7 linked regions of the Homo sapiens genome follow. The protein of the gene in region 2 purifies or fractionates together with the protein of the main gene of each other region. This does not show direct contact. Each region holds a gene or a part of one and is shown on either strand. Other genes may lie near its edges. The genes, in order: C2CD5, DUSP5, DLGAP3, PUS7, POPDC1, ANKRD17 and C11orf58.

What was found.
Region 1: the proteins of DUSP5 (region 2) and C2CD5 purify together in Homo sapiens (affinity purification with mass spectrometry, with the first as the bait; one large-scale study listed by BioGRID). This does not show direct contact.
Region 3: the proteins of DUSP5 (region 2) and DLGAP3 purify together in Homo sapiens (affinity purification with mass spectrometry, with the first as the bait; one large-scale study listed by BioGRID). This does not show direct contact.
Region 4: the proteins of DUSP5 (region 2) and PUS7 purify together in Homo sapiens (affinity purification with mass spectrometry, with the first as the bait; one large-scale study listed by BioGRID). This does not show direct contact.
Region 5: the proteins of DUSP5 (region 2) and POPDC1 purify together in Homo sapiens (affinity purification with mass spectrometry, with the first as the bait; one large-scale study listed by BioGRID). This does not show direct contact.
Region 6: the proteins of DUSP5 (region 2) and ANKRD17 purify together in Homo sapiens (affinity purification with mass spectrometry, with the first as the bait; one large-scale study listed by BioGRID). This does not show direct contact.
Region 7: the proteins of DUSP5 (region 2) and C11orf58 purify together in Homo sapiens (affinity purification with mass spectrometry, with the first as the bait; one large-scale study listed by BioGRID). This does not show direct contact.

What each region holds. Positions count from the first base shown.
Region 1 is NC_000012.12:22,454,043-22,457,542, reverse strand, and holds part of C2CD5 (C2 domain-containing protein 5), read left to right. Parts: intron 1-381; coding exon 382-572; intron 573-3,500. UniProt on the Homo sapiens protein: Required for insulin-stimulated glucose transport and glucose transporter SLC2A4/GLUT4 translocation from intracellular glucose storage vesicle (GSV) to the plasma membrane (PM) in adipocytes.
Region 2 is NC_000010.11:110,496,643-110,500,706, forward strand, and holds the start of DUSP5 (dual specificity protein phosphatase 5), read left to right. Parts: upstream 1-1,264; 5' UTR 1,265-1,479; coding exon 1,480-1,858; intron 1,859-4,064. UniProt on the Homo sapiens protein: Dual specificity protein phosphatase; active with phosphotyrosine, phosphoserine and phosphothreonine residues. The highest relative activity is toward ERK1.
Region 3 is NC_000001.11:34,926,851-34,930,875, forward strand, and holds the start of DLGAP3 (disks large-associated protein 3), read right to left. Parts: upstream 2,801-4,025; 5' UTR 2,601-2,800; intron 1-2,600. UniProt on the Homo sapiens protein: May play a role in the molecular organization of synapses and neuronal cell signaling. Could be an adapter protein linking ion channel to the subsynaptic cytoskeleton. May induce enrichment of PSD-95/SAP90 at the plasma membrane.
Region 4 is NC_000007.14:105,505,272-105,508,771, forward strand, and holds part of PUS7 (pseudouridylate synthase 7 homolog), read right to left. Parts: intron 3,274-3,500; 5' UTR 3,242-3,273; coding exon 2,844-3,241; intron 1,003-2,843; coding exon 918-1,002; intron 786-917; coding exon 684-785; intron 1-683. UniProt on the Homo sapiens protein: Pseudouridylate synthase that catalyzes pseudouridylation of RNAs.
Region 5 is NC_000006.12:105,096,322-105,099,157, reverse strand, and holds the end of POPDC1 (popeye domain-containing protein 1), read left to right. Parts: 3' UTR 1-2,336; downstream 2,337-2,836. UniProt on the Homo sapiens protein: Cell adhesion molecule involved in the establishment and/or maintenance of cell integrity. Involved in the formation and regulation of the tight junction (TJ) paracellular permeability barrier in epithelial cells.
Region 6 is NC_000004.12:73,248,799-73,252,298, reverse strand, and holds part of ANKRD17 (ankyrin repeat domain-containing protein 17), read left to right. Parts: intron 1-1,710; exon of another isoform or gene 1,711-3,500.
Region 7 is NC_000011.10:16,748,647-16,752,146, forward strand, and holds part of C11orf58 (small acidic protein), read left to right. Parts: intron 1-3,500.

The sequences.
Region 1 (3,500 bases), on a different chromosome or scaffold from region 2:
AAAATTGCACTGGGAAATAGAACAACTTTCACACTCTCCTTGTAATAATTTGTTCCTACAGCAGATAATTTTAATGCTCAGCCGCTTTTTCTTTTTCTTCACTTTATAACCAATCATTGTGTGTGTAGCTATACTGCATCAACATTTTCTTTTGCAGGAATGCCATTTTTCTTCCAAAAGAATTCCATTCCAGCATTTCCTCTCATGTTTTTCTGTCTCTCTTTTTTAATTGCATGCAGTGCATGATAATTTCTTTTCTTTCATGACATGGCTTAGCCTCACAGACAGCTGAATGTTGTCACCACTTATTTGGAAACCTCAGGGAATAATTGTGTTACCAGCGTCTGTTCTGAATGTTTTCTCATTTTTCTCCAATTTTAGCCATGACAGTTGAAAAAGCAAGTCCAGTGGGTGATGGAAATTTCCGGAATCGTTCTGCTCCACCTTGTGCAAATTCCACAGTTGGGGTTGTTAAGATGACACCTCTTTCTTTTATTCCTGGAGCAAAAATAACTAAGTATCTTGGGATAATTAACATGTTTTTTATTCGAGAGACTACTTCTCTTCGGGAGGTAATTTTATAGAAGTTATTTCATTTTTTAAAAAATTTTCTCTGAAGATTTAGTAACAAAACTAAGTTTCAAATTGTTATTTTTTGCCAAAAACTTACAAATATTTATTTATATTTTAATTATCTGGATTGAGTCTAGAGTTTATTTCATTTAGCAGCGAGGATTATCACAAGAATTGTGTTAGTTTTAAACCTATTTATTGTTAGAAATCTTAGAACCTTATCATATAGTAAATAAAACAAATATCTGTGTTCAAATAGAAGTTTAAAATAGCCCTGAAAGAACAGCTTCGTTTCCTCAGTAATTTAGCAATTTTTGACAGATCACATTTAGAAATAGTAGAGGACTGTATTACAGATACATGTCTAAGGAGATACTTTATGTAATTTAGCTCTGCTGTTTCTTCCTCCTGAGAAAGGAATGAAGCTGCTCATTTTTTACTCTCTCAGTTAGTGTATGAGGATGACATTTCTTCAGTCTTACCTCACACTGAGTATCATTAAACTTTAATTTGGTTTTTAAATAACAAGTTGTAATATTTTACTTGATGTGGGAAAAGTTCAGAATCAGAGTCAGCCTGTTATATCTTTTATAACACAGGAATTTAAACTTAAAAAAATTACGTTGTGTCATATGTTAAGGAACAGGGGCTACCAAGCAAATTAATATGGTGAATAGGGAAATTTTTTAGTTACTGAGGTGTGACATCCAATAACCTTTTCAAATTTTACTTCAGCTGCAGTTTGTATTTTTAAAAAGTATATTCATTATAAAGATGACTTAGCTGTGCCCTTCTTCACCAGCAGTATTTCTATACTTTCTTAGGAATAACAGCCTGCACACTGTCTTTAATATCATACTCACCATCCTGCGCCTAGCACAGTAGCTGGCATGGAATAAACACAATATGTTTTTGTGCAAATAAATGAATAGCTTCTGACAGATTATTTAATTAATTAGATGGATGTTTTCTTTAAGGTAAATTAGGCCAGGCACAGTGGCTCACGCCTATATTCTCACCACTTTGGGAGGCTGAGGCGGGTAGATTGCTTGAGGCCAGCAGTTTGAGACCAGCCTGACCAACATGACGAAACCCCTTCTCTACTATAAATACAAAAATTAGCCGGGCATGGTGGCACATGCCTGTAATCCTAGCTACTCAGGAGGCTGAGGCACGAGAATTGCTTGAACCTGAGAGGTGGAGGTTGCAGTGAGCCGAGATTGCGCCATTGCACTCCAGCCTGGGTGACAGAGTGAGACTCTATCCTTCCCCCCAAAAAAGATAAATTAGTTTTTATATCACTCTTAATTACGTTAAGATGAAAAATAAACTATGAAGATATTCTCAAAAGCCTTTGGATAGAGAATTAAAATAGATGATACTTCTACATCCATTTAAATTTGACAAAGATTTGGTGCGAAAAGCTGGCATATATTATGAATTAACCTTTTCTACTTGCTCTTGGTAGCACATGGATATTACACTATTTTGAATCCATAAAATTGTATTTCCTAAGCCTTCTTGACTACTTAAGCTCCCATACCTCAAAATGTTGCTTCTTAGTAGGTTTTCCTTCAACAGAAACTTATAATAATAATTGTGTAGCACCATATCCCAAATGTGTTAATTGCCTGAGTCGTTTTCTTACAGTTAATTAATATTTTTAAAATTAATCCTCTGTAGCTACTGTGTCATCAGAATTTTTTGATTTAATAAACAGGAAATTGATAAAACTCAAAAAATATACTGAACTATGATTGAGTTGGAGGCAGGCTGAAGCAACTCCCTTAATTCCCTAACTACAAAAAGAGATATCTTTATACAACTATATGTAGGATCCTCAGGCTTTTCAGAAGGATGTGACCCAATAAAATGGTTTTCTAATACTGCAGTCATTTTTCCCCTTCACTTCCAGTTTAAAGTTGGAAATTTCCTCCTAGACTGTAAATAAGTCCAATAGAATTTGTGGAAACCTAGGTTGAAAAGCATTTCAAGCTATTGACTAGCCTTTGATTTCTGTTTTGCTTGTTTTTCAATATGGGAAAAGTACCCTGAACTACTGGATTTTATTTCCTTACAATTATATATGGAATTCTTATTATATGCACCTGTTGAACTAGATGTTAGCATATAGTTGTATGCAAAACAGATACAGTCCCTGACCTAATGGAATTTACAGTCTAGTAGAACTGGAGCACGGTGGACATTAACAAATAATCATATAATTAGTATCTAATTACTAGGGAGAGTAAGTAATATAAAGAAATTGAACAGAGGCTATCAGAGTATATAATGGACTTCAACTTAGAGTTCACAGTCAGAGAAGGTATCTCGGAAGACATTATATGTAAGTTGGGACCAAGGAGTGAATGAGTTGTTCTCTGAAAAAAAAAAAAAAAATGAAAAGTCTGCAGGAGCAACATGTGCCAGTGAGCCTGAGGTAGGAAGAGTGCTTGTGCATTTGAGAAACTGAAAAAAAGGCAAGTTTGATTGGAACATGGTTCAGGTTCAGAATGAGAGATATAGATAACAGGTAAGTTTTATCGTTTAGGCTTATCATCAATTTGTTTAAATGATGATGAGCATGATATGATGGAGATGTTGAAGGTGGAGGCACAATTTGAATTCTTGCCTTGCCATTTACTTACTAGCTAATTTGATCATAGCTAGTCATGGGCAAATTACAAATTCTCCGGGCTTCAGTTTTATCATCTGTAAAGTAAAGGTAGTAAATCCTTGCCTGGACATGTGTTCAGTCAATGTTTGTTCATTCATGCAGTAAATCCCCATTGTGAGGGAAGTTTAAGTTATTTGGTATATTAAGATAATTTAGGATGTTTTAATATATATTCTTTGACATTTTGTGTGCATTCCTATATCCATACACATGTATATATAGTATGATTTTCCTGTGCACTATTATTTAG
Region 2 (4,064 bases):
CAATGCTGGCTGTCCTGGTGTCTGATTTGATTGCATCTGATTTCAAAATTTGATCTCTGCTTCCTTCTGAAAACCTCATTCCCTTATGTCAGTTGTCAACAAGCCCTTGTCTAGTGCGGGCAGACTGTTTTCCATCAAGCAGTCCCAGCCAGGCTAACAATAAAATGGTTGGCAGTGAGCTTGGGGGCAGAAACCTGTTTCCATCCATGTGTCCCCGCAGCTAGCAAAGCCCTGGCACACGGCTGACCCTCAATAAATGCTTGCTGAATGGGTGAATTGTGTCTGCTTCCCCAGGAATAGGGGTGGGAGGCCTGAAGCCCCTGGGGACCGGTGGGGGCAGACAGCCTGAGATTAAACTTGATCCATAGATAATCCCCCAAATCCAGAAGCCACCTGGACAACAGTTGGCTGAACTGAGCTCCATCGTGGGATACATGCTGATGGTACTGCTGAGTTCACCAAGGGTCTCCCCGGGACCAGAAAACAGCTCCTCAAAATACAACTTATTATTCTAATCATTATTGGAGAGTGACAGAGAAAAGAGCGTCAATCCTTTGAGGGCAGAATCCATTTAGGAAGATTAAATGGCTATTCTCACCGCCGACCCCCAACCCCCGTTTTTACTTTTACAAACTTTATTATGAAAAATATCAAACATACAGAAAAGTGGAGAAAACAGTATAACGAATCCGGCCACCCATCACCCAGCCTCAGCGATGACCAACCCGCGCCTGACCTCTCCAGTCATCTATACCCCACCCCTCGAGGCAAATCTCCGACGTCCTCTCCTTACACGCGCAGACCTCGGTAGCGACGGGAATCCGTTCCGGACTCCTCTGGGGCCCTGGCCGGCTCCCTCGGCCCTGCTCAGCGCGGCGCGGGCGGGTTCTCAGCCCACGTCCGTGAAGCTGAAGGCCGGATCGTGCGGCGCCGCCCCGCCCCCCACGGCGCTTCCTCCTCGGTCCGCACCGCGAGGGTCACCGCGGCCCCGGAGCGCCTGGGACACTCGACCGGCAGCCGCGGGTGATGCGCGAGTGAGTCCCTCAGCGAAGCGCGGAAGAGAGAACGAAGAGGCGCCTTCCACTTCCTCTCGCTCTAACGCCGGCACCCGCCCCGCGCGTCCCTCGCCCCCGCTGCCCCGCCCCCTGCAGGGCGTGGCCACGGCCCGAGGGGCGGGGAAACACCCATATTTGGCCTTATATGGGCAGCCGCGTCACGGACGGCACTCATTCACATAAAACGCTGCGCGGCCGGCGGAATCCCCGGCTTCTAGGGCGGCGAGCGGCCGGGCTGGCTATCGAGCGAGCGGGGCGGGAACGCGGAGTTGCGCCGCCGCTCGGGCGCCGGGCTCCGTCGCGGCCGCAGCCCCGCGGGTCGCCCTCCCGTGCCTCGCCCGCGGACACCCTGGCCGTGGACACCCTGGCCGTGGGCACCCGCGGGGCGCGCGGCGCGGGGCCGCTGGCCGGCGGCGGCGGCGGCATGAAGGTCACGTCGCTCGACGGGCGCCAGCTGCGCAAGATGCTCCGCAAGGAGGCGGCGGCGCGCTGCGTGGTGCTCGACTGCCGGCCCTATCTGGCCTTCGCTGCCTCGAACGTGCGCGGCTCGCTCAACGTCAACCTCAACTCGGTGGTGCTGCGGCGGGCCCGGGGCGGCGCGGTGTCGGCGCGCTACGTGCTGCCCGACGAGGCGGCGCGCGCGCGGCTCCTGCAGGAGGGCGGCGGCGGCGTCGCGGCCGTGGTGGTGCTGGACCAGGGCAGCCGCCACTGGCAGAAGCTGCGAGAGGAGAGCGCCGCGCGTGTCGTCCTCACCTCGCTACTCGCTTGCCTACCCGCCGGCCCGCGGGTCTACTTCCTCAAAGGTGAGCGCTCGGGGTCCCTGCCACGCTCGCCCCTCCGGCGCCCCCGGGTCCCCTCCCTGCGCCGGGGCGCCCTCCTACACCCTGGGACCGGGAGAGTCACCACCTGCAGGAGTCTGCACCCTGTGGCTTGTTGTGCGCTTGGGAGGGCACTGCAAATGTCAGCACTCAGAGCTCCCCCTCTTCCCCACCCGCGTTCCTCGAAAGCGCCCGGCAGCGGGTCTGCCCGGTGGTCTGGGTGGAGTTGGTTATGCTGCGGGGGCTGCTGCTGTTTAGCAGTTTGGGGGCCGTCGGCTCGTGCCGGGCACGAGCCCCCTTTCCAGACGCGAGCTTCGCCGCTGTCGCTGGGGTCAGGGCTCGGGGCCTTCCTGATAGACTGATCTGGCGGGATCAGCAGGTCGCGATCCACTCTCCCTTGGTGTGGCGCCGTGGTGCCCCCCTTCCTCCCGCCTAGCCAGCTGTGGTCTTCACCGACCCCCTTGCCTTTTTGACCTGGCGAGTCCCTTCCCTTTCCATTTCATTTTATTGCTTTTTATTGTTTCCCTCCGGCCTCTTCTCCCCTCCTAGGTCTTTTCTCTAGCTCAGTTTGGAGCTCACATCCTTTCCACCCTTTTCACCTCCTCCTTCCTCCGCCCCAGGATTATCCCTGGGACCCATCCTGAGCTGAGCCTACAGCCAGCCAGCCACGAAATAGAGGTGCGCGGGGGCAGGGTGGTATGGAGATTCTGCGGCCTTTGATTTGACACCTCCCGGAGCTACCGCCACAGGCCTGCCCATTTCACCTGCCGGGAAGATAACTTTGGCTTCTGGTGGTGGGTGGGTGATTGACTCTCAAAATCCAAAGCATTGGTTTTTTCTGGGTTACTTCCTATGACTGCTCCTGCTTTGTGTTTGAGTCCTTTGTAACCTCAAATGACACCCGGGGAGACCTGACCCACATGTAGAGATGAGGGTTTAGCCCCAGCAGGGCCCCAAGGCCGTGCCAGCCCTGGCGCGGACACCTTGGGATGTAACAGTGTTGGGGATCAGAGCTCGGTGCAGAGAGCCGGCGCCGAGTTAGGAGCCTGTTTTAAAGCCATGCAACTTGAGTTTCACACAGTCCGGGCCAGGAAGATTCTGGAGACAGTTCCCCTCTCTGCTAGCACCTCCTGCTGACTGGTCCCCTGTTGATTTCCTGTTGGAGAGTTAACAGAGGTAGATGGTAATCGTCCTTCTTCTAACAGCCTATCCCCCAGGGGATAGAGGGTTGGCCCTCTGGCTCTGCAGAGGTTTCAGCGTGCCTCCTGATTTCTTTCTCTTCCTAATATGGTTTTTATCTCCTGTGGTTTGGAGAAGTTTCTGCCTCAGTAGTATGAAAGAGGTTCCAGGAGACCCTCCCTGGTCCCACCTCTCCTCCCCATGCTTCTCTAAGCTGGCCCTGCTGACAGTTTAGAAGTTGTCGCCACAAAGTAGGCAGCTCTATAGACTCACATCTCAGGAAAACTGGGTTAAAATGTTTTTTAAAAGAAGGTAACATATACACAGGTAAAAATTTGAACAGCATGAAGGCCCTGTGATGAGAAGCGGGTCTTCTGCATATCTTAGAACCCAGTTCCACTCCCCAGAGACAGTCGTCAACTATTTTTTGTTTACCTTTAGATAGTTTTTCATAAGTATCTTAGAAATAGATTGATTTTGTATAGTCCCTGTCCTGCCTCTTGTATCTATCTAGATCTTGGAGACTTGTCCATATCTGATCATACATGTCTGTTTCACATTGAACCGGTCTCCTGTAATGACCATTAGGTTGCGTCCCGCCTCACTGCTCCAAGCAATGCGGTAGATGTCCTTCTCCATGTGCTCTTGCGTGTGCAGTGCCTTTCAGTAAATCATGAGAATTGCCAGGTCAAGAATTACATGCATTTTAAGTTTCAGTAGAAATTGCTTCATGCCTACCCTTATAACACTACTAAACTTTAAATTGTTGCCAGAGAAAATTTTTATTTCTTTACGTAATTCATGTGCAGATAGGAGTTCAGGTTTTAATCTGGTGGCATCTCAGATCTTGGTGGGGGCAATGCCTTTTGACACTTTCCATAATCCCCTGTCTCCCAAACAACCACTAAAATGAAATGGTGATGACTGAATTGCGTGGTCAGTGCTTATTTATATATAGTATCTGTGCTCTCTCTGTTCCCTGGTGATGTGGTGGTGATTGAAAGCAGACTCA
Region 3 (4,025 bases), on a different chromosome or scaffold from region 2:
TTTCTCTATTCATTAGGAACCCAATAAGGTAAGGAATGGTCTATCCAGCTAGAGGCAAAATGCACTGGAAACTGGGGAGGATGAAGGAAAACAAGCTTAGCCAGCTCGAGCCCCAACATCAGCTGGAAGAGATGATGTTAGGTGTCAGGCAGCCGCTGAAAGCAGGTACTAACATGAGAAAGTCTGGGAGTCTGGCCTGTAGCAGCTCCAGCCCCTCACCAGCAGGAATCAAGACAAGACAAGCCCATGGCCTACCTCGGTGGTGGGTGTGGCTAGGAATCCCTATCCCCAGCGACATCTGTAGCGCCCTCTCTTTGGCAAGGAGTCCCAAGCTGAAAGATGTACAGCCTTAGGCTTTTTGAGTCTTCATTTCTTTTCCAAAAATCCCCTGTACTCAGCTCTGATGGGGGTGGGGAGAGTTCAGGAATAGAAGGCAACATGGAGGATTGCAAAGTTCCTCGTCTAAGATTAGCCTAGGAACTCACAAATTCGTTGTGTGACCTTGGGCAAGTCCCCTCCCTTCTTGGGGCTTCAGAGTCCCCGGTTTGTAATGAAGAGGTTGGACCAAGTCAATACTAAGGTTCCTCTCCTGGCCATCATTCTACAGCTACATACAAGCTCACTCGTTGGATGTGAGCCCCCTGGCACAAAACTCAGCGGGCCCTGCCTGCCAGATCAGTGGGGCAGTGGCGGGTGGGAGATGCGGGGGCTGTATGTGAGGCCGTTCATCCTATGTTCATGTTCCTTTTAGAAACACCTGCCACCCTAGCCCTCCCAGCTCCCTTTTTAGACCCTGATTCACTGCCAACTCACGAAGCCTCTCCCTCCCCTCCCTCCTCTCTTCTCCCCCCACCCCCCACTCTTTTAGGCATTGGCAGCTGGGTGCAGAAGTAGCCCCAGCATTCAGGGAATGCTGCGCAGTGGTAGAGGGCAGTGCCCCCAGGGTCAGAGAGAGCACACCAGGAAGTACCACTCTCTAACCTTGGCCCAGCCCAGTTCTTTGGGTCACTGAAAGACCTGGGCTGAGGTCTTTCTGTACCACTAACTAGCAGTGTGTGGTTGTGGAAAATGCAATTCATTTCTCAAGCCTCAACATCTTCATCTGTAAATCGGCATTATATTTGGTTGAACCATATGAAATTGCTGTTTTTGTAGGTTAAATAAAAACAGTTGAATATTGCAGTTGCATATGGCTTAACGTGATACCTGTCCTGCCTGCTTCCCAAGGCTGTTGGGGAAATAAGAAGAGTTCAGAGGGCAGCATTTTCAAAAGCCCTGAACTAATATGAGGGCATTATTTTATTATTATTACTTCAAAGAGCTTAGTACAGACCCACCCGGAGCCAGTGGACTGAACCAATAACCCAGAACTTGAAGGTTTGGGACTTGGAAGTCTGGGAGAGCGCCACCTGCTCTGATGACTAACAGGGCAGACGCTTCCACCTGGCCTCCTCATCTCCTAGCTCTAAAAGGCCCTTGGTGAAACATTATTGAGATGACACAAGTTCCCAGGCCCCCAAAAGGAGAAGCAGCACACGCAGGCACATACTCCAGCTCGCCCCAGATCCCCCCTCCCACCCACCAGGGGCCTTAGCATGCAGGAAGGACACGACCAGCAACATCCCAGAGGGCACCCCCTGAGGTAGGTGAAGGTAGAGACCAAGCTGGGGAGTGCCACAAAGCTCTTGCCTGAATCAAGGGTCAGGGGTCCCCAGAGAAGTGGGGAATGATCTGACCTCGGAAAAGTCTCATCTCCCTGTCCCATATCCCACCAGGAATGGGGGGACAGTGGGGGGGACAGAGCCCAGGTGTGGGTGATTCAGAGTGAACCGCGCTCAGATACACTCTCTCTCACACAGCCAACGCACGCGCGCGCACACGCACACACACACACACACAGTCACACAGGGCAGATACCGGGACCCACTCACAGAGACAGTCACGCCGGCACACACATCCATTCACACACTCACAGACACACACAGGCACACATGGGGACAACACACACTCATTCACTCACATGTCCACAGATGCATACACAGTACCACCCTCCACACTCACGCTGCATACACCCACTAACATGCACACACACTCTCGCCCACAGTGACACACGCACACACTCACGGCATACACTCACCGGCACACACAATCGCCCACAGACCCACACAGTGACACACTCGGCACAGACACACAGCGACACGCACTCACATTCACACACCTGCAGAGGAAACTTCTCTCCGGATCTCCCCAGCACCACGACTTCCCCCACAACCAGCTGGCTACTCCCTCCCAGACCCGAGCCTCCAGCCGGGCGAGGGCTGGGCCGGGGCTGGCCTGTCCCCGCGGCCCTGACCGGGAGCGTGGGTCCGCGGTCCGCGTGGTCCCCTGCCCGCCCCTCGGGTCGGGCCCGCGGGCAGCCAGGCCGGGGCAGGAGCGGGGGCAGCTGAGGAGGCCCAGCCCCTCCCCCCTCCCGGGGCCGGGAGCCGAGCGCCGGAGCCCGGGGCGTGGGCGGCGCCGGGGCCGCAGCCGGGCCGTGCCTGGGGGGCGCTGCAGAGGGAGCCGCGAGCGCGGCCCCGTCCCCACTCCTCCCCGCGGCTTACCTGGCCCGGCTCGGGCTCCGGCCGGGTTACATGGTGCCGGCGGCCCGGGCCGGGGGCGCTGCGGCGTTGGGCAGGCGGGCAGGGACCGGGGCCCGGCACTGCGGAGCCCCCAGCTGAGGGGCCGCGCCGGCTGCGGAGCCCCAAGCGAGCGCCGAGCGGCAGCGGGCGCGGGAGCGGGAGGCGGCCAAGCCACGGAGGCTGGATTTCCCGGGGACCGGGAAGGGGAGGCGGGGGGATCCCGCCCGCGCGCTCCGCCCCCGCCCCCGCCCCCGCGCAGGGCAGCCGAGCAGGGAGAGGGAGAGGGAGAGGAAGAGGGAGGGGGACCGAGCTCCCCGCCCCCGCGCGGACCCAGGAGGGCCGAGGTCGCCGCCCGCGGGCGGCCGCCGGGGTCCCGGAGGAGCGCCCACCTCGCTGAGCGACGGTGCTGGGGGCGCCCAGCGTAGGGGCAGGAATGAGATCCCCCTCCCCGGGGACCCAGGAACAGGCACCCGAAGTGTCACGGCCACGCACAGCCGACCTGGGTACAGGGACCCAAGCCCGGCGGCGGGCGGGCGGTCGGGGACCAGCTCAGCCTCACGGACCGGGTCTCGCCCCCCGCCGAGGGGCAGTCACGCCCTGAATGTCACACACAGCCCCCAGGCCCGTCCGCTTAGGAGACTCTCCTTCGGGCTTTCCCGGTCGGCCGCCTGACCTCAGCTCCTGGCTTGGGGTCAGGGAGCCCCCCTCTTCGGCCCCAGCCCCTGCCAGGATGGGGCGCTGTGCCCGGCCTCGGAGCCGCTGGCAGGCGTCCCCCACCCACAGTCCGCACAGCCGAGGCATCCCCAGTGTGGAGGGAGAGCCCCGCTGTACCTGCCGCCTGTGCTGGGCCCCCGCCCGTGCCCACTGTGCCCGCCCGCCTCTGGGCCCTGAGCCTGGGATTGTGCCATGGCGGGGTCGGGGTGGGGGGAAAGGGACTGTCCGAAGCACAGCTGGAGGCTGCGGAGCCCGGACACAGGCTGCGGGAGCCGAGAGGCGGAGAGCGGACTGCAGCAGTCCCCTGGCTTGAATCCGTCTTGGCGCCCAGAGCGATGCTGTAATGGGGGGGAGGGGGCCACGGTGGGGAAGCCGCAGGGGGAGGGGCTGAAGACGTGGGGGAAGGGGTGGCTCCGGATTCCGGCTTTCCAGGGTAGGTGTGAGGAAACACTGCCTCCGGCGCTGAAAGTTGGGGGTGGAGGTTCAGTGGGCATCCTTAAAGCCCTCTTCCCTCCTCTACCTTTTCCGGTCTTGAAAGCTTGGGATGGTGAGGTGTGGGCTTGGGAGGCTTGAGACTGCCCACCTCTCTAGGAACATACCTTGGAGTTGTTCTGATTCAACGGCCCCCACCCCGCACCCCAACAACTCCCTGCTCTCTGTTTCCTTGTGGGGCCACCGGCTCTCCTCCCTGTA
Region 4 (3,500 bases), on a different chromosome or scaffold from region 2:
GGATTACAGGTGTGAGCCACCGTGCCCGGCGAACAAAAGCTTTAACAACAAAATTTACTATTCTACTTAGTAGCTGAGCTCTCCTTTTCTTCAATAGCAGAATTGACCCACGATGAGCAAATAAATGCTCCCCTACTTCCTTTCCCCATTTCCTCCCCTTCCCAGAGTCCCAACTGAGGCCAAGAAGCTGCTGAAGCCAGAATCTGACCTGGGTCACATACCTGACAGACAGCAAATGGTGGTCCTGTTACAACGGACATTGTGGTATAATTGGTACTCTGGGATTCTAAACAACATATGTCGCTGTTCATTTGTGGTCCCTAAATTTTTTTTTCAGAGATGATGTCTCACTATGTTGTCCAGGCTAGTCTCCAATTCCTGGGCTCAAGTAAACCTCTGGCTTCAGCCTTCGGAGTAGCTAGGACTTTGGAATAGCATGTAACACTGTACCCAAATAAAAATGTTTTTAAACAAAAATGTAACTTTGGGGGGGGCTATAGTTTATCTGGGATACTAGTTATCTGCCCCAGTAAAAAAATTTTTTAGTGTAATATCCTTTAGATCCAATAGAGCAAAAAGTCACCCTTTGTTAACCATTGTAATTTTTTCCATAAACACTTAACATCCACCCAAAAAGCAACTAAAACCCTAAATAATTTTTCATATATTTTTGCATTAGTTACCTCAATGGCAACACTGGTTTCCTTATTTTTGAACAGCTGGAGCTCTTCCAATCGCTGCTTTTCTTCAGCTGTCAAAACTGTAAATATGTCTTCTGAAGGGTCCTTTAAAATAACCATGAGAACTCACAATGAATCATACATAGAATTCAAGTTTAATAAAGCTCTATATTTCTAAATCTCTAGGAAATGCTATTTTTATACAGAAGGTGACATTTGCTAAAGAGCTACTTCTACCTCCTCATCCACTGGAATGGACAAGTCATTCAAATGGCTGATCCGTCCATCTTTTCCTATTTCATGAACAACGAAGTCGGAGTATCTGATGAAAGAAAACATGAACTTTCAGATAATTAACATCCTGTTTTCTATTAATTTTAAGATAAAGTTGATCAACAGCAAGCCTTACTATTATGCAAAACAAGGAATTTTAAAAAATCTTCAGTGCAAAATCACATGGAGTTAATTTTTTTTTTCTTTTTTTTTTTTGAGATGGAGCCTTGCTCTGTTGCCTAGGCTGGAGTGCAGTGGCTCGATCTCCACTCACTGCAACCTCCGCCTCCTGGGTCCAAGTGATTCTCCCGCCTCAGCCTCCCGAGTAGCTGGGATTACAGGCACGTGCCACCACGCCCAGCTAATTTTTGTATTTTTAGTAGAGACGGGGTTGCACCATTTTGGCCAGGCTGATCTTGAACTCCTGACCTCAAGTGATCTGCCCATCTTGGCCTCCCAAAGTGCTGGGATTACAGGCGTGAATCACCACATCCGGTCTTTTCTGGTTTCTTAATGAATGCTGAGCCATACCTTGGCTCAAGTTTTATATGAGAACTTAAAGAAAAGACCCTCTTAGCTTCTAGAATATTCTTCCAGAGAAATGCAAAAACAAAAGCTTATTAACATTACCCTATGACGATTCAGGCAGCCCACACTAAATTAAATCACAAAATATGCTATATGGTTAATTGAATCAGAACCCAGTAAGTCTACCATGAACTAGCCTGAAGCTTACCTTTATGTTAAATATTTTACATGCATTATTCAAAATCCTCAACAACCCCAATGTGGTAATATGATCCATTTAAAAATTTTATTTTATTACTATTATTTTTTTTGAGACAGAGTCTTGCTCTGTTGCCCAGGCTGGAGTGCAGTGGCTTGATCTTGGCTCACTGCAACCTCCGCCTCCTGGGTTCAAGTGATTCTCCTGCCTCAGCCTACCGAGTAGCTGGGATTACAGGCGCGTGCCACTACGCCAGGCTAATTTTTGTATTATTAGTAGAGACAGGGTTTCGCCATGTTGCCCAGGCTGGTCTCAAACTCCTGACCTCAAGTGATCTGCCCGCCTTGGCCTCCCAAAGTGCTGGGATCACAGGCGTTAGCCACCGTGTCTGGCCTGATCCATTTTTTAAATAAGGATGCTGAGGTTCAGAGAGGCTAAGTAACTACTAAGTAGCGAACTTCACACTGGGATCCACCTGGCTCCAAAGACTACCTTCTTCTAACATAGTTGTGGCACATTCAAATGAAAAAAGAGTTTAAGATTATAAAACAAACTCAGGAGAAAATCTGAAACCATTTAAATGAATTTATTCATTTACTTATTTTTTTGAGACAGAGTCTTGCTCTGTCACCCAGGCTGGAATGCAGTGGTGCAATCTCGGCTCACTGCAACCTCCACCTCCCAGGTTCAAGCTATTCTCCTGCCTCAGCCTCCCGAGTAGCTGGGATTACAGGTGCCCATCACCACGCCCAGCTAATTTTTGTATTTTTAGTATAGATGTGCTTTCACCATGTTGGCCAGGCTGGTCTCAAACTCCTGACCTCAAGTGATCCGCCAGCCTCGGCCTCCCAAAGTGCTGGGATAACAGGCGTAAGCCACTGTGCCTGGTGAATGAATTTATTTGAGGCATGATCATGCCACTGCATGCCAGCCTGGGTGACAGAGTGAGACCCTCTCTCAAAAAAAGGGAAAAAATTAATTAATTAAAATTTAAAAATCCAAGGCTATTTATTCAGGCAGGTTTCCTTCATCCTATTCCTTTTGATCAGTAGTATAAACAAGCCTTGGAGATGGAAAGCTAAGTGGAAGAATATAAAGCTAATTTCTTTCTAAAGAAGAAACCTAATACAATCAAAATAACTTTATTCATAAACTAAATGTACCTTTCTTTTAAGATTCCCGAGAACCCTTGATGAGAACTCACAAACTTGGTGATGCCTACGTCAGCCTCAGTGAGTCCATGCTTCATCATGTCTGCAAAACTCTCTGATTCCTCCTCCTCGCACTCCTCTGAAAGTCCATCTTCCTCCTCTTCTTCCTCATCTTCCAACTGAGCCTCAGAATTCTTTCCACCTTTCCCAGTACTGACAGTGTCAGGAGGCCGAGGCACGTCTTCACTGATGGACAGAAAGTCATTCTGTAGCCCATCTTGACCTTTGGTTAGACTGCATTCCGACAGCTTCTGTTTTTTTGTCTCTTCAACTGGGACTCCACTGTCATTATCTTCGACAACCAGTGCCCCACGTTTCAGCGACACACCAGTCATTTCTGTCATCTCCATCTTTAAGGCTCCAAGAAAACATTTAAGAAAACCTGTTAGGAAAGAGTAGAAAGTAACAATCACCTATATAAAAGCTGGTTTCAGGCCGGGCGCGGTGGCTCACACCTGTAATCCCAGCGTTTTGAGGGAGGTTAAGGCAGGCAGATCACTTGAGGTCAGGAGTTCAAGACCAGCCTGGCCAACATGGTGAAACCTCATCTCTACTAAATATTAGTTAGGCGTGGGTGGCAGGCGCCTATAGTCCCAGCTCTTGGGAGGC
Region 5 (2,836 bases), on a different chromosome or scaffold from region 2:
ACTGGACACAGTGGCTCACACATGTAATCACAGCACTTTGGGGGGCCAAGGTGGGTGGATTGCTTAAGCCCAGGAGTTCAAGACCAGCCTGGGCAACATGGCTAAACCCCATCTCTACAAAAAAAATTAGCTGGGTGTGGTGGTACATACCTGTAGTCCCAGCTACTCAGAAGGCTGAGGTGGGAGGTTCACTTGAACCTGGGAGGTTGAGGTTGCAGTGAGCACAGATCACACCACTGCACTCCAGCCTGGGCAACAGAGTGAGACCCTATTTCAAAAAAAGGCTGCTTTCACTGTACTGCTGCAGCAGTCTCTTCAGGTAGCTAAATTAGGAGCTTGTTTTGGAGAAATGAAGCAAAGGTGAATGACAGCCTAGGCTTGAAATTATAAAGCTCTCTCAGGTTGAACTCTCTCGTGCGCTCTCGCTCTCACTTTCGCCCTGTACCTGAGAGCACAGGTGTAACTGTGATGTCATAGTGCCGAGACTACTTTCCTTTAACCATTGGGGTTAAGTTGGGCAGCCCATTTAGTTTACACGCGCATAAGACTAATTTACAAAATCACTCTATACAGTCATTAGATGTAACATCCTTCCCTGAGTAGAAAGTAATGCATGTGTTTGGAGATTATTTTCTGTAATGCTGGGAACAAACCTGTTTTAAAAGCACACTGCTAAAAGTAGGTGATATAAGACCATTTGCTGTTTTTATTAAAGTATGTGTGTGTATCAGTGTCTCAATGTGAAGATTGTAACCTCAAGATTAGGAATCTTAAAAGAGCCACTTAGCCTGAATGGGAAACGTGAGACTATTTTTAAACACACACCTCTAAGGAAGAAGCCTCCCATATAGACTTGATCTCAAAGAAGCAGATAAGAAGACAGAAAAGTGTTTTAAGTGTAAGATCTCCTATGGAGTACTTTAAATTCATTTATACAAATGAATAAGTGTATCTTTGTATAATGCATAAATACATAGATAAAAACATGTTTGCTGCCAAAGTTCCCAATAAGATGCTTCCTGTGTTTTTTGGCCTTTACTTAGCTGAATGATCAAAGTTCAGAAAATGGTCTGCAAAAGTTACTCCATATACAACCCCAAATCTACTACTTTAAATGTAACATCAACTCAGTTGTATGAATCTGGAGTGTAATATTTATATTAGAATGTATATGTCATTTAAAATATTTTGAAAGCCCTCATAAATATTTATATTTACTAAACTAATAGCATAGACACTATATAAATCCGCAGTGATGCTTATATATCTTAAATTAGTAATAATGGGTGCTATATAATTATTTTCAGTTACTATCCCTGACACTCTGGAATCTTCTCCATTTCTCCCTATCACTCAATTTCATTTTAATCATTGGACACCTTTGCGTTTTGCTGCTAACAGTGTGTGTATGTCACCCTCTTTATATCTGGTTTTCCCACTTGTCTGAAGCTCTCCTGATCTTAGAACCTGGAGCTGCAGATTCCTCCATGTCAGCTCCCATCACGGCCCCAAAGACAGAGTCACTTGGTTGCTGAGTCACTTGGTTGCTGGAAAAATCTTTGGGGAAAGCTGGTATAAGCTACACACTGACCTGTCCCCAGTGTTTCCAGGTAATGACTTGGCACTCCAGAGAAAGTTTCATGCTGTTGCGTGTGGTGGCTCCAAGCCAAGCACCTGGCATGCAGGTCAGCCCTTCCCAGCGGGCGTGGCGTCGTCCTCTTCACAGATGCCACGTTGCAGCCCCAAGGCCTCACCATTTTGCGTTTTTTAGAAACCCATTTTCTTGGTCATTTATAAAGCTGCTTTATAGATATCTTTGATCCTGGCATGCCTTGGTTTCCTCTCCCTTCCCTCTTTCCAATCCTGGTTTCCTAACCTCCTCTTGTAGTAATTCTCAACTCAACTCAAAGTCCCAAGAATTTGGAATGGTAGGATGCTGTGCGGGGAGCTCGAGGCTGAGGCATAATCACTGCTTCGGTTCTGCTCATCAGGGGACACGCTCCCTTACTCATGGCAGCCATGTTTGATTGTCACAGAGCCCCCCGAATACTCTGTCTATAGTGACACACTGTAGGTGTCATAAATTTTAAGAAACCTGCTTTTAAGTACTATTTATAGGTTTTTCTGTTATACTTGCAACCTAGTTTTAAAATACATGAGGATTTTATGAAAGCTTTATACAGACATTTATAGGAAACTCATTCTTTGATTTTAGGTGCCATTTAAATTGATAACACTTACTTTATAAAAAGATGCTTTTTGTCTGGATAGAGCCTTATAGTTTAAAATATCTTCATATATTGCCATTTGATCAAATAAATTTCTTACTTAGAAAATGTGTGTATTTTTTATTTCATTCCTCTTACATATATCTAGCTTGTTCGAATGTCATGCCCAAAGGCCAAGGTTGTGGGGATGGGCCTGGTGCAGGCCATTGTATTCTGAGCAGACCAGCAGGGGCGGTGCTTGTGGGTCGGTCATACCTGACTTCAAAGGTCCTGCCATCTTGGCTGCTTTGACTGTGAAAAAAAAAAATGGCCAGAAGGCAGTGTAGACAGTGTTGACTAGATGCAGCAATGGAGAAGCCTTCAGAGTTTTATTGATGGGACTTAGTGGGCTTCAGCTTTTTTTCTATTGCATCTGAACATTCACTCCCTTCTAGTTTCCTAAGATTCAACAATATGAGGAGTCACATGAAGGAGTCAGAAAACCTCCCTGGATCTGTTCTGTGGTGGATGAGGGGGACAGTCTTTCTATTCTTTGAGAAACCCACGTTTTCTCCCATCAGCTGTCCTAGATATTGGAATGGAAACTTGACAGCCCATCTTTTGGCCTT
Region 6 (3,500 bases), on a different chromosome or scaffold from region 2:
TTATATCTTCATGTTTTGCCCTTTAATTAATGAAGCAGTTTACATTGTGTGCTGTGGACTGTCATATCTGAAAGCAAAAGCCTTGTCTTACTCATCTGTATATCTCCTGCTATACAGTACCATGTGTCTTATGTAAGTCTTTGTATCTCTGCTAGGTTCTCATGAAGTCCCATCTCTGTAGTAAGAATAACTCATAAATATTTCTTTATTAGCCACCTACTGTGGGAAATCTTTGGGACTTCAAGTCTTGAGGTAACAGAACTTGGTTGCAGCTATTATTTACAGTAGATCCCTGTGGGATGTTTTAATTGAACCATTATTTTTAGTTTAGTCATTTTTAACCTCACCAACTTAACTGGAGTTAGTATTGTGAAAGTTTTCAGTGTTTAATAAGCATCAAAGTAGCATATTTTGACTCTCGGAAATTCACTAGACTATCTGTTTCTGCTGTTACCTGATTATGCCATCTAGTTGATTAGGAAAACAGTTTTTAGGTCCTTGAGGCAGTGCAGTTGCATTTATGACAGTAGTTTATCTGAATTTTTATAAGGATAATTTAATGGGTTAAAAAATGTGGATTTAATGAGGACCTTCATAATTTTTCCATACTTGACCACAGATGAAAGGGAATTTTTACTTCACATTGGTATGCGAAGTAGTGCCTGCTGGTACCACTTATATTTTTGTTAGGACCAGTAGGAGGCACCAACATCCATGGTGTAACCTACACCAAACCTAACTTTTTTCAGCTTTCATCTTTTCAAAAAAAAAAAAAAGTAAGTCATTAGGGAATTGAAGGTGGTGGGTAAATACGAATACCCTTCTAGTCCCTTGAATCTTACCTATCTGGTACAGTTATGTCCATCCACTTCTTACCCAGAAGCAAAATACCCTTTCTGACTTAACAGTGCTTCACTTCTTAACATTTTTTTGTCTTTAGAAATTATTATTATTCATTCCTGAAGGGATGTAGAGTTGTGGGACAATATAGGTATCATTTTTATAATGATTTATAATTTGGGGTTTCAGTTATTGAAAAGGGAAATGTTAACTGTTATTTTCCCCAAGCATGCTATGAAACTTCAAATAATATAGCTCTAATTATTGAAAGCATAACTTAGACTGCCTTCTGTCCTGTGAAACTCATAAACATTACATGATCTTTTAAAGGAGTCAACTTTTTGTGTGTGTGTAGAGATGGCGTCTCACTTTGTTGCCCAGGCTGGTCTTGAACTCCTGGCTTCAAGTGATCCTCCTGCCGCAGGCTCCCAAAATGCTGTGGGATTATAGGCGTGAGCTACTGCATCCAGCCTGGGGTTAGTTTTTAAGTTTACTTCTGAGTGAGACTAGAGATAAAAGAGAGTGGGGAGAAGGAAATGTAAAGATTTTACATTTGAAACATCAGAGTGCTAAAAATAGAAAAATTAGTCGGGCGTAGTGGCTCCCGCCAGTAAGTCCCAGCTACTTGGGAGGCTGAGGCAGGAGAATTGCTTTAACCTGGGAGGCAGAGGTTGCAGTGAGCAGAGATCGCGCCCTTGCACTCCAGTCTGGGCGACAGAGTGAGACTCTGTCTCAAGCAACAACAACAACAACAACAACAACAACAACAAAAACCGTTACAGTACTTGAGGAATTCCTATTGGAGCCATTATTAGTGTCTTTAAAAACAACTCTTTTTTTCTGTTTTTTTTTTTTTTTTTTTTTTTTTTGAGACAAGGTCATCTATGCTGGAGTGCAGTGGCGTGCTCTCGGCTCACTGCAACCTCCACCTCCCGGGTTCAAGCAATTCTCATCTCACCTTCCTGAGTATCTGGAGTTGCAGCGTGAGCCACTGCGCCTGGCTAATTGTTTTGTATTTTTATTAGAGTTAGGGTTTCACCATGTTTGCCCGGCTGGTCGCAAACTCCCGGCTCCAAGTGATCCGCCCGCCTTGGCCCCCAAAGTGCTGGGCTTGCAGATGTGAGCTACTGTGCGCAGCCTTTATAAACAATTTTGATATATGGTGAAATTTCTCAAAGCTTGCTGATCATAGTGAATTATGCTGATAAGAATGGGAAACAAGATTATTGGGAATAAATTGAAAAATATTAAATAGGTTTTTATGCGTCAAGGGTAAAAAAAATGTGTTTTGAGTAAATGATCTGAAATACAGCATGCTTTTTTGGTAAAAGCTTAGTATAATGTAGGGTGAAGTTAAGGCGTTGGCGATAACCAGAATCATAATTCTCATTTTAAATAATGCTATGCTACATCTGCACAAAATAGATTATGTATATTTTTGGCTGCTGTACCATGAAAATGATGACTAAAACGAGGTCTAGAGAGGGATAGTTTAAAAATGATGGTAGGGCTAGAGATGGAATCCATGATTGAGGAGGACTGTAGATTTTACTTAACTATATTCTTTCTTTTTAATTTATTTTTATTTTATTTTATTTTTTTTGAGACGAAGTCTCGCTCTGTCTCCCAGGCTGGAGTGCAGTGGCGCCATGCCGTCTCACTGCAACCTCCGCATTCCAGATTCAAGTGATTCTTCTGCCTCAGCCTCCCAGGTAGCTGGGGCTACAGGCGCCGGCGCCACCACGCCCGGCTAATTTTTGTATTTTTAGTAGAGACGAAGTTTCACCATGTTAGTCAGGCTGGTCTCGAACTCCTGACCTTGGATCCGCCCCCCTCGGCCTTCCAAAGTGCTGGGATTATAGGCGTGAGCCACAGCACCCGGCCGATTTTACTTAAGTATATTCTTATTGCTTATTACTTCATACTCAAACTGACTTATAAGGTAGAGAAAATCATAATGTGTACCAGATAGTGCTATTTCAGTTTAGAAAATAAATTCATTTTTTATTTCTTGAGATTATTTGAAAGTACATTGTAGAAATGGCACATTTATGGAACTGCTTTATGGCTGTGCCTCTCTTGCAGGGAATTTTGCCTCCCCCTTTCCTTTTCCCAAAAATACTATTAGCTTGCCTAATTTAACCTTTCACTTTTTTTATCCCCATCTTCCCCCACAAAAGAAAGGAATAGAAAAGAAAAATACGAAAGTGAAGAAATAAGAACCTGCTCTAAAGTTATTTCTTGGTCTGGGTTTCTTTATGGATCATCTCTTAATTAGCTTAAAAACATTTGATTGAAACCTATTTTGGAAGTATCTATGGAAAGGTTGGTTCCATTAGTTTGGAATTTAGAATAAATATATGTTACCATAGAGATCTATTTTCCTTTCCCTCTTTTCCTGTCAACCTAAATGTGAAGATTGACAAGAAAAGGAAGCCCACCTGTTTGTGTTACAGTTAGTGTTAGAAATGCCTTTGACCCCATTGTTGTCTCTTTCTTTCTCTGTGCCATGTTTATTTTTTTAATGGCATTAATAATGAAAACAGTCTTGTTTCAAAGCCTCTAGTATAGCACATACTAGAATTAACTCCTACAGGAGTTAATTCTTTTACCTGACAAACATTTATTATCTCCTATGTGTGGCTGTTTTCATTGTCTAA
Region 7 (3,500 bases), on a different chromosome or scaffold from region 2:
AGGCACGATAATTGCCTGAACCAGAGAGGCGGAGGTTGCAGTGAGCCAAGATAGCACCATTGCACTCCAGCCTGAGTGACAGAGTGCAACTCTGTCTCCAAAAAAAAAAATTAGAAATGTATAATAGGTAAACATGTTACATATATAAAGTATCAATTATCATGTACTTTGATTTTTAAAAGATGAGAGAGTATATGTCATTATGATATTCTAACCAAGAAACTAACCTTTTTCTGTCTCCATTTTTACTGATTCAGAACATATATTTTAATTGTAGTGAGGTTTTATGCCTCAACTTGTTAACTCTGGTATGTACAGAATTTTTGTTCTTTGTATATTAGCATATAATGTCATAGTTGGCATTTGGTTTTGTGTATTCACTAAATTTTGTTTTAAAATCTTTGAAGAATATAAACTAGTTGCAGGGCCTAAAGAAATAAGCTTTTAAAATAATTTTAGGGAAGAACATTTTTAAATAAAAACTGAAAATGAATTTGGGTATTTGGTGTGCTGAAAAGTGAAATTTTTGCCTATTTAAAACTGACCCTAATCTTGGACATTAGTAATAAAAGGCACATATTAATAAAAGACACATTGACCTAGATTATGTTTAACAAAACTTTAAGTTATTTAAATTATGCTAACACAGCATATGTAGCACATTTTAGAAATTCATAGATCTTTTATTTTTCTAGTGTTAAACAATTACTTCAAATTGATTTGTATTGCTACATAAGGCAAAAAACAATTCCTGAACTTTGCAGAATGGAAAAATATTTCAACTGCCACATTTACTCTTTTAAAACTGAGAGCTTTAAAGCAGGAGCTCCCAATCCCCGGTACCCATCCCTGGCCTGTTAGAAACTGGACCACATAGCAGGAGGTGAGTGGCACGCAAGCCAGAGAAGCTTTATCAGTATTTACAGCTGCTCCCAATGGCTTGTATGGCCACCTGAGCTCCGCATCCTATCAGATCATTGGCAGCATTAAATTCTCATAGGAGCATGAACCCTATTGTGAACTGTGCAAGCCAGGGATCTAGGTTGTGCCTCCTTATGAGAATCTAATGCCTGATGATCTGAATTGGAGCTGAGGTGGTAATGGGGAGTGGCTGCAAAAACAGATTAACATTAGCAGAGAGGCTTGACTGCACAGAGACCGTAATCAATCAACTGCTTGCAGACTCATATCAAAACCCTCTCAGTGAGTGGCAAGTAACAAGCTGCATCTAGTGGCAGGTTTTAAGTCAGAATCTGACATTTAATCTGCATGTGGCCTGCCCATTACTTATTTACCACTTCCATCCATGTCTCTTTCCTGCACTGTGCATTTGTCTCAGTCACAGTTTTGGTAAGCCCACAAGCTAACCCTAGCCAAAATGAGTAAAAAAACAAACGTCCTTGGAGAGCTTCTTTGAAAAGGGGGAAAGACCCAATGATGAGACAGCAGAAGACTCTAATACTGCCAACAAAGAGAAAGTGGCATTTAAAAGAAAATATCAAGAGTCCTACTTAAATTGTAGGTTCATTGCAATAGGTGATTCACATTCTCCAAACCTGCTTTGTCTAATATGTGATGACCAGCTATCCAGAAAAGCCATGAAACCTTTAAAAGTGCTTCACCACATGGAGACCAAACACCCTGCATTAAAAGACAAGCCTTTGGAGTTTTTCAAAAGAAAAAATCGTGAACGCAAAGAACAGAAGTAATTATTGAAGGCCACCACTTCATCAAATGTGTCTGCAGTGAGAGCATCATTCTTAGTGGCTAATCACATTGCTAAAGCTAAGAAGGCCTTTACTACTGGTGAAGAGTTGATCCTGCCTGCTGCTAAGGACATCTGTTGTGAACTCTTAGGAGAGCCTGCAGTTCAAAAGGTGGCACATGTTCCTCTTCTGGCTAGCACCATAGCTAGATGAATTAATAGAGGATATGAGGCACAGTTGTTAGAATTAATGAGTCACTGTGGTACCCAATCCAGGTTAATGAGTCTACCAGTGTTGACAGCAAGGCAACAATGCTTGTTTTTGTGTGATACATTTTTCAGGAGGATGTGCATGAGGATATATTATGTGCACTTTTGCTTTCAACCAACACCACAGCTGCAGAACTATTCAAGTCTTTAAATACATATCAGGAAAACTGAATTGGTCATTTTGTATCGATATATGCAGGGATGGAGCAGCTGCCATGACTGGACGGCTTTCTGTTTTCACTACTCAGGTCAAAGAGCTTGCTTCTGAATGTGAGTCTGTGTACTGTGTCATCTGTAGAGATGCTGGCTAGTTGGAAAATGCCACCTGAACTTACCATTTTGTAGGATGTGCTTAAAATTTTCAACCACATTAAAGTACATGCCCTTAATTCACATCTGTTCATGTAGCTCTGTGAGAAGATAGACACAGAGCACACGTCTTCTCTTATACACAGAAGAGAGACGGCTTCCTAAAGGTAGATCACTGGCCACTGTTTTTCAGTTACAATAGCTGCTCCAGAGATTTCATTTTAGAAAAAGTCACCACTGGCAGCACATTTCGTTGACACAGAATTGGGTCACAAAATTGCTTACTTGGCCAGGCATGGTGGGTCACGCCTGTAATTACAGCACTTTTGGGAGGCCAAGGCAGGCAGATCACTCAAGGCCAGGAGTTTGAGACCAGTCTGGCCAAAGGGGAGAAACCTCGTCTTTACTAAAAAATACAAAAATTAGCTAGGCATGGTGGCACATGCCTATAATCCCGGCTACTCGGGAGGCTGAGGCACGAGAATCACTTGAGCCTGGAAGGCAGAGGTTGCAATGAGCCGAGATCATGCCACTGCACTCCAGCCTGGGCAAGAGAGCGAGACTCCCTCGAAAAAAAAAAAAAAACTTGCTTACTTGTGTGACATATTCAATCTGTCACCTCAGGGGAGAACAAAACTGTGTTCAAGTTGGCAGATAGAGTGGCTGCATTCAAAGCCAGACTAGTATTATGGGGGCCACAAGTGAACATTGGGATTTTTTGACATGTTTCAAACATTAGCAGAGATTTTAAAAGAGACTGAGCCAGGACCTTTTTTCTCCCAGCTGGCACATGATCACCTATCTCAGCCTTCAAAGAGTTTGAGTATTATTTTCCAGCCACGAAAGAGCCCCGAACTGGGAAGGAATGGATTCACAACCCATTTGTGAATAAGCCAGGTGAATCGACTTTGTTCATGCTAGAAGAGGATCAGCTGCTTAAGATCACAAATGATGTTGCCCTTAAAAGTATGTTTGAGACAACTTCACATCTCCATACATTCTGGATTAAAGACAAAGTGGAACATCCTGAGATTGCCACGAAAGCACTGGAAAGCCTGCTTCCATTTCCAACCTCCTGTCTTTGTGAAACAGGGTTTTCTGTAGTGACAGCAGCCAAACAAGATTACAGAGTAGACTGGACATAAGCAACACACTTAGGGTGTCACTGTCTCCCATCACCCCTAGATGGGACCGTCTAGTTGCAGGGAAAACAAGC